Homo sapiens: one gene and its partner. The protein of the gene in region 2 purifies or fractionates together with the protein of the main gene of each other region. This does not show direct contact. Each region holds a gene or a part of one and is shown on either strand. Other genes may lie near its edges.

Region 1 (3,928 bases), on a different chromosome or scaffold from region 2:
AAGCAGTGGCTGGGCGTGTGGTTCATGCTTATAATGCCAGCACTTGGGGAGACAGGCGGGAGGATCGTTTGAGCCCAGGAGTTCAAAACCAGCCTGGGCAACATAGCAAGACTCCATCTCTATTAAAATATATATATATTTTTTTAATTGTTGAAAGTATAGTATGAATGAAAAATACAGCGATTTAACAGTTGTGACATTTGCAGTGTTTGTTTTTTCTACTTCTTTTTTCCCATTGATCCATAATAAAGTCAATTGTAAACATGGCAATTTATTTTCAATATCACAGCATATTCCTCAAAGTTGGTACAATACCATTGTAGCATCTAAGAAAATAAACAGTAATTTTCAGACATTATCATATATTATTCATATCCAGATTTCTCTCATTTGTCCCCTTAATGTCTTTTATAGCTTTCCTTAAAACACTAGGGTCCAAAGTTCACACACAGCATTTTATTGTATTCTGTCTTTAGTATCTTCAAGTTTAAAAGAATCTCCTTATTCTTTTCCTTCTTTTCTCTTCTCCCTGCATTCTTCCTAACATAGTATCAGTTTATATAGTAATTTATGAAGTGTCAATTTGGATTTTATGGGCTATTTTCAAGTCTGTGGATGAGCTTGGAAGCAAGGATGTCAGTGAACTGACATCCCTAAGAGTTGATGTACTATTTTGTGTTCCTGTGGATATATGTGTTTTGTTTTGTTTTTTGTTTTTTTAACAGAGAAAAGAAGAGTGGATGAAAGTACTCATAATTTTAGATTATAGCTGAGGTGTATATTTGTGAGAGAGGGGAGGAGGAGAGAAGTGGTTAGTTTTGCTACATTTCAGCCACATCTAATTTATAAAATTATTCATAGTTACAGATCTATCACAGATCAGCAAATATTTGAATTGCCACCTGTGCTGTTGTCACTAACTAGTAAATTAATCAACTCATCTCAAAATATTCTCAGTGCTAAATTGAATTAATCAGGGATGGCTAGATTATCTGCCACTGTGACACAAAGAGATTTAGAAAATCTCAAATAATTCCTGTAAGTGCTTATACTGGGGCCTCATTTAATTAAAATATAGGGCAAACATTGGATAAACCAGGTAATTTAAAGTGGCTAATTTAATCATCAGCTGGTATGCTGTGCTCAGAATGTTGTTTATATGTATACAGTGTGGGTCTGAGTCAGTGATTATATCTTTAGATGAAAAATAAGAATATAGATTGGTTTTCGTTGGTTTAGGTTTGGGTTTGTTATCCTTGTTTTCCCTACTCCATTTCTTACATAAATGTTTTTTATTTAGCAAATGTGAGAAGTTAAGTACCATGAATTAGATACGATCCAGTGTATTACCGTGTATTTTTATATAGCTTTATAAAATTGGAAAAATAACCTTAGATTGCTATGTTGGCAATATGAACAAGAACATAGAGGAAATAGCCCTAATCTAAGTAGAGCTTAGGAAAGTTTTTAACAGGGGTGAGTGACACTGAAGCAAACTAGCCCTTGAAAGATGAGTAAGAATTCACCAAAGAAAAAAAATAATTGAGACAATTTTTTTTTAAGTAAAATATTTTTATAAAGCTTTTAATGCTACTTTCTGACCTACAGGTGATGAAGGGAGTATGCCAGCAGATATAGCCACATTACTAAAAACATCAATGGGCCTGTGAAATAAGAACTGTGAACTCTCAATTGATGAGGAAATATCAACTTGGTGCACTCAAGGACATTTACATTATGATGACCATGGGGTTTATGAACATTTATAACTTTTTATAATTTCCATATTACATTTCTCATAGTATGGACAACTTTTTGCCACTAACTGAATTCTCCAAATACTCACACGTGAAATTTCAAAAAAGAAGCCACAAATATGTAGTTCTGAAGATGTTGAATAATCATTTTACAAAGCAGTTTTCTGAATGGGGATTAGTTGGTGATTGTTTGTAACAAATATGCTAATGCTTTAGAAATGTCAGTATTTTTGTAATTATTTCTACCTCCAAATATATATATATTGTCTTTCACTGGATAATGTGTGTAGATTTTTACATGTGCCTTATTTGACAATGCTTATGTCTTGTTTTTGCTTGTCTCATTTGAAGTTCTTTTTTATTATGTTAAAGAATGCAGCTGTATAGATTATATAGCTTTCATTTTATTGCTATTTGAAGCAGATGTTCACCAATGTCAGCAAGAACTCAACCTGAATTTAAAGGTGGCATTCCATATACTAACATCCCCCAGGTCCTCTCAAGTACTTCTGCTGAAACAAATTTATTTGGCTAGGCACTAAGTTGTTTTCCAGTGAATAGTAACTAAAGAAGCCCCTACCTTGCTCCATGGATTAATTCCTTCTGTTCATTTTCCAACTGCACTAATTGTGCATATTACTCTGCCTAATCTTGTGCATGTTTTCATTGATTTCCCTCTCCCGGCTTTTGCTTCTCTTGAAACTGTTGCCCAGTCACTTCTGCTCCAATTCTCTTCCTCTCTAAATAGTAGTTTATTACTGCCACATCTCCATGCATCAGCAAAATGTTGGTGACATTTTTCTAGCCTGGCAGAACAGATTACTTAAAGCTATTTCATTTCAAAGCAGACTGAATGTGACTTCATCTAAAGGCAGCATTAGGTACTGCATGGAAATAGGTCATTAACTTGAAACTCTTATCAAAATATATTTTACCAGTTTCCAGAATTTCCAGTACAGGACCGCCTGAAGAGAGAGCCATTGTTCAATTCCAATTCAGTGTGAGTGACAAAGTGAAATTTAGAAGTGAAGTTGTCTATTTGATATTTAACTCTTTATTAAATCTTTCTTTAAATTTCTGCCTGTCAGTCTATATTGCTGTTTTTATTATACATCAGTTTCTTTGTATAACTTGTGAGTTCCATGTGTTTTGTTTTTATTATGTAAATATCATTATAAATAAACTTATTTATAAATCAAAGATTTGTTAATTTTTGGAAATCATGCTTTTCAAAGCATCCTAACTTGCTAAGATGCTAGGTAGTACGACCCTCTGGATTTGGAAGGCAAATAAAACTCTTACAGTGATTATTTAGATATTAAAGACTGAGAACTCACGGCTTAACCCCAGTCTTGATGGTATATTGAACAGACTGAATATATTTTACCATTACAGGGCTAAAAGGAGTCTTCATGTGTTAATACTACCTCCTTGTACATCACTATACCCAAATCAGTTATTCAAATTGTTAGGAATTTTACCTTTTAAAATCTCATAATGGATATCTCATGTTTTCTGTATTAATGTATTTTCAATGATAGGCTGTTTCTTTTTTTGTTGTTATTGTTGTTGTTGTTATATCCATACTTTTATCTCTAATGAAATGTAGTTGGGTTCTTCCTGTAATGCGCTATTATGTCTTGGGCTTAATAAAAATATTTGTGATCATAAGTTGTATTTTCACACCCTTTTTAATAGTTTCTAACCCTTCCTCCTCCTACCCTTAAAATCATATAATATTGGGCACAAATGAGATTATCTTATGTGCTTAATATTGCCTGTTTGCCAGTAAATTGGAACTTACTACTTAGGATGTATTCTCATTGGTTCCTTCATTGGACTGATGTCAGTAAATACTGTAACCCATTATCACTACAGAGCAAATGAAGCGAGAGTTGGAGTAATATCTTGACCAACTGAAGCATTTTTTAAATGCAAGCTACACAAAGAAGACATGCCTTATGCATTTTTATAACTGTTTGGGACCCCCATAGAGTTTTAACTTTATGCCAGTAGATACTTACTTTGAAACATTACTGTAGTTCCTAACAGTTGGCATTATCGTGTAGTGGAGAGACGGGGTATGAGGAGATTTGGTTTCCATTTGTGTGACCTTACGTGTGATACTTCACAGTCCATAAATTTAAGGAATTCGGATTGTTTTAACTCTT
Region 2 (4,031 bases):
CCCATTAGTTCCTTAGTAGCTAGCCATCTCAGTTACCAGGTTGACTACTGTAGTATAGCAGTTGCCTGTGCTCAAGAATGCCTTATTTTACTTAATAATGACCCAAAAGCACAAGAGTAGAGACGCTGGAAATTCAGATATGCAAAGAGAAGCCATAAAATAAAAAGGTAAAAATTCTTGTCTTAAGGAAAGAAAAAATAATCATATGCTGAGGTTGCTAAGATTTACAATATAAATTATTTTGAGAGAGATACCACATTCATACAACTTTTATTACAATATATTGCTGTAATTGTTCTATCTTATTACTAGTTATTGTTGTCAATCTCTTACCATGCCTAATTTGTAAATTAAACTTTATCATTATTATGTATGTATAGAAAAAGAAAACCATAGTGTATACAGGGTTTGGTACTATTCATGGTTTCAAAGTATCCACTGGGGTGGGGCGCGGTGGATCACTTCAGGGCAGGAATTTGAGACCAGCCTGGCCAACATGGTGAAACCCCGTCTCTACTGAAAATACAAAAATTAGCTGGGCGTGGTGGCACGCTGTAGTCCCAGCTGCTCAGGATGCTGAGGCAGAATTACTTGAACCCGTGAGGTGAAGGTTGCAGTGAGCCAAGACTGTGCCACTGTACTCCAGCCTGGGTGACAGAGCGAGATTCTGCCTCAAACAACAACAAAAACAAAGTATCCACTAGAGCTCTTGGAACATATCACCTGTGGATAAGGGGAACCACTGTATATACAGATCTTTGTGAAGAATACTGCTAACAACCCAAGAGCAATCACTTATTCAGGGCTCACAATGAGCCCAGCACTGGAGTTCCCTGCTCATCCTTGGAAATTTCCTGCTCAGATGCAAACATAGCTGAACTCTCACCTTTTCCTGCTGACAGCCACTCACCCACATCTCCCTTACTAGAGATAGAAAGAAAAGAATAAAGACCAAAAAACCCTGTTGACTATTTTTTCCTTTCACTTTTTGAGAAGTGTTAATAGAACTGAAAATACCAGCAAGGAAAAACGCCCTCGAGGAATAGAGTTAATTGGATCTCCAAAATGTTGTCATGAAAGGTGCATTCCTGGGATATGAATTTGATTTCCTTCCTTTCTTCCTCTCTCTTTCTTTCCTCTCTCTCCCTTTCCTTTCCTGTCTTTCAAAACCATTCGCACTCCTTTTATGAGGCATGCAGATCTTGGATTATTCTTCCACTTTCCAGCCAACTGCACTTCAAAACAGCCTTAATAAGGCTGGGCACGGTGGCTCAGCCTGTAATCCCAACACTTGGGGAGGCCGAGGCGGGCGGATCACCTGAGGTCAGGAGTTTGAGACCAGCCTGACCAACATGGACCTCGTCTCTACTAAAAATACAAAATTATCCCGGCGTGGTGGCGCATGCCTGTAATCGTAGCTACTAGGGAGGCTGAGGCAGGAGAATCGCTTGAACCCGGGAGGCAGAGGTTGCGGTGAGCGGAGATCGCGCCATTGCACTCCAGCCAGGGAAATGAGAGTGAAACTCCGTCTCAAAAACAAACAAACAAACAAACAAACAAAAAAAAACGCCTTAGTAACAGTGCCCTCAAGAACCTGGCCTTCCAGTTCTCTGGCAGAGAAGACCTACTGCTGCCGCTAGTCCTCAAGATGGCATTTGCTGGAGGCGGTAGGCAGAGGCCCTAAGTGTGGATTCTAACCCCCGTGGGGACTGAATCTCTGCGGCTGTTGCTTGCCCAGGCACGTTTGCCTCCCATGAACTTCCTTCATCCACAGGGCCCCAAACCTCATGCCGGCGGGAGGAGGAAGGAGACTGGGCATAACTCATCAGACTTTCGACTGTAAGAGCTGGAGGCCGCCTGCGGGCTTATCTGTACCCGGGCCTGTCCCCACCCTTCCAGAATGTAAATCCTCTGAGGGAATGTGTCGTCGCCATCTTTCAGTCCTTTGAGTGCACCCAGTCTCTCTCCAACCCAAAACCCTTTATCCACAGCAATTCTGAGAATGATGAGAATCCCCCTCACCCCTCACACCGCAAACAGTTGCAATGCTTAGTGGGATTCACCCTTGTCGTCACCAACCCTGCTACTCCAGCCACGTGAGTTTTCCGCCTGTCAGCCAAGCAAAATGGCCTTCCTGCAGTCGCACGGCCCTTTGGTCTCTGCTCAGGGCTTCGGGGACCCTTTCCAGCCATTGCCCTGCACCTACCCACCAGATCGCCGCCCTGGTGGGCGCTCCTGGCCCTGTCCTCCGCGCTTAGTTTGTCATTGGGCGCCCAGATCCGGAACCCCAGCCTCGAAGCTTCCGGTGGCCGGGAACAAAGCCGGTTTTGCTCACTGTCGCCTGGCAAAGCAGGCGCTTGTTAGCACCCACTGAATGCGCTTATGTGCTCAGAAACGGTCCCATTGGTTGGGACTACCTTCCCCGATGCCCATCCGCCCAGAATCTTCCTTCTGGGATGCCGACTTTTTCAACACGTGCCAGGAGCCCTTCCTCGGCCCGGAATCCCCAGAGTGCCCACAGTGGACAGGGCACCTGGATACACCCCAGACTAACCCACGTTTCCCCGGAGGACCCCAGAGGTTGGAAGCCCCTCCAAGATTAGGGGCGCAGTGCTCCCCTGGCCTGCGGAAGAGTCAGAGGAGTGGGGACAACATCCAACATCAGCCTCTACTACCGCTAGCGCGACTCCCCGCCGCCGCTCTACTCACCTGACGCGCGCAGTGGACCGCGATTTAGGGGCACAGGGTCTCCCGGGGACCAGCGGCTGGAGCGCTCCGGCCGAGCACCCGCAGTCCCGGCGCCGCGGCCCCACCCCGGCCCCGCCCTCTTCCGCTCCCTCCCAGTCATCAGGCCACCGAGAATGTGCCCCTTGACCCAGATGAGAGGGTGAGCCCGCCAAGGTCAAGCTTCCCATCCTAAGAATCACAGACAGCCCGGCCATGCACCACCACTTCGAGCCTCCGACCAACTGATAGCTGCTGGTCCCAAGTAGCGCTAGGATTTTCGCTTTCCCAGTCTTAATTGACTCTAAAAGAAGAAGAAAAAAAAGCCTGGGCGCGATTGCTCACACCTGTAATTCCGGCACTTTGGGAGGTCGAGGCTGGTGAATTACCTGAAGTCAGGAGTTCAAGACCACCCTGGCCAACATGGCGAAACCTCGTCTCTACTAAAAGTACAAAAATTAGCCAGGCGTGGTGGCGGGCGCCTGTAACCCCAGCTACTCAGGAGGCTGAGGCAGGAGAATCGCTTGAATCCGGGAGGTGGAGGTTGCAGTGAGCCCAGATCACGCCACTGCACTCCAGCCTGGGCAAAAAGAGTGAAACTCCATCTCAAAAAAAAAAAAAAAAAAAAAAAAGAGGAAAGTATTTACGAAAAAAAAAAAAAAAGACCAAAGTATTATGATTAAAACACGCGGCTGAGAGCGGTGGCTCACACCTGTAATCCCAGCACTTTGGGAGGCTGAGGGGGCGGATCACCTGAGGTCAGAAGTTCGACCTCAGCGTGGCCAATATGGCGAAACCTTGTCCCTATTAAAAATACAAAAGTTAGCCGGTGGTGGTGACGCACACCTGTAATCCCAGCTACTTGGGAGACATTGCCGTTACTGGGCAAGTGTTCTTTCAAGAGCATCTTATCTGAATTACTATAGTACTAAAGAATGTCTAGGCTGGGCCCCCGTGGCTCACTCCTGGAATGCTAACACTTTGGGAAGCTGAGGAGGGAGGATTGCTGGAGGCCAGGAGTTCAAGACCAACCTGGGCAACATAGCAAGACCCTTTCTCTAGAAAAAATGAAAACAACTTGGCCAGGTGTTGTGGTACATGCCTTTAGTCCTAGGTGCTTAGGAGGTTGAGGTGGGAGGATTGCTTGAGCTCAGGAGTTTGAGGTTACAGTGAGCTATGATTGCACCACTGCATTCCAGCCTTGGCAATGGAGTGAGGCCCTATTTCTAAACAGAACAAAAAAAAAGAATGCCTGCTGATAAACCTTGTGACAGGACATTCATGAAGGATGAAGAAAAGATTTCTTT

What was found. Proteins that work in one complex are often made in the same cells at the same time.
Region 1: the proteins of ZFP57 (region 2) and SMARCAD1 purify together in Homo sapiens (co-immunoprecipitation; one large-scale study listed by IntAct). This does not show direct contact.

The regions. Positions count from the first base shown.
Region 1 is NC_000004.12:94,287,865-94,291,792, forward strand, and holds the end of SMARCAD1 (SWI/SNF-related matrix-associated actin-dependent regulator of chromatin subfamily A containing DEAD/H box 1), read left to right. Parts: intron 1-1,608; coding exon 1,609-1,670; 3' UTR 1,671-3,428; downstream 3,429-3,928. UniProt on the Homo sapiens protein: DNA helicase that possesses intrinsic ATP-dependent nucleosome-remodeling activity and is both required for DNA repair and heterochromatin organization.
Region 2 is NC_000006.12:29,678,353-29,682,383, forward strand, and holds the start of ZFP57 (zinc finger protein 57 homolog), read right to left. Parts: upstream 2,801-4,031; 5' UTR 2,710-2,800; intron 1-2,709. UniProt on the Homo sapiens protein: Transcription regulator required to maintain maternal and paternal gene imprinting, a process by which gene expression is restricted in a parent of origin-specific manner by epigenetic modification of genomic DNA and chromatin, including DNA methylation.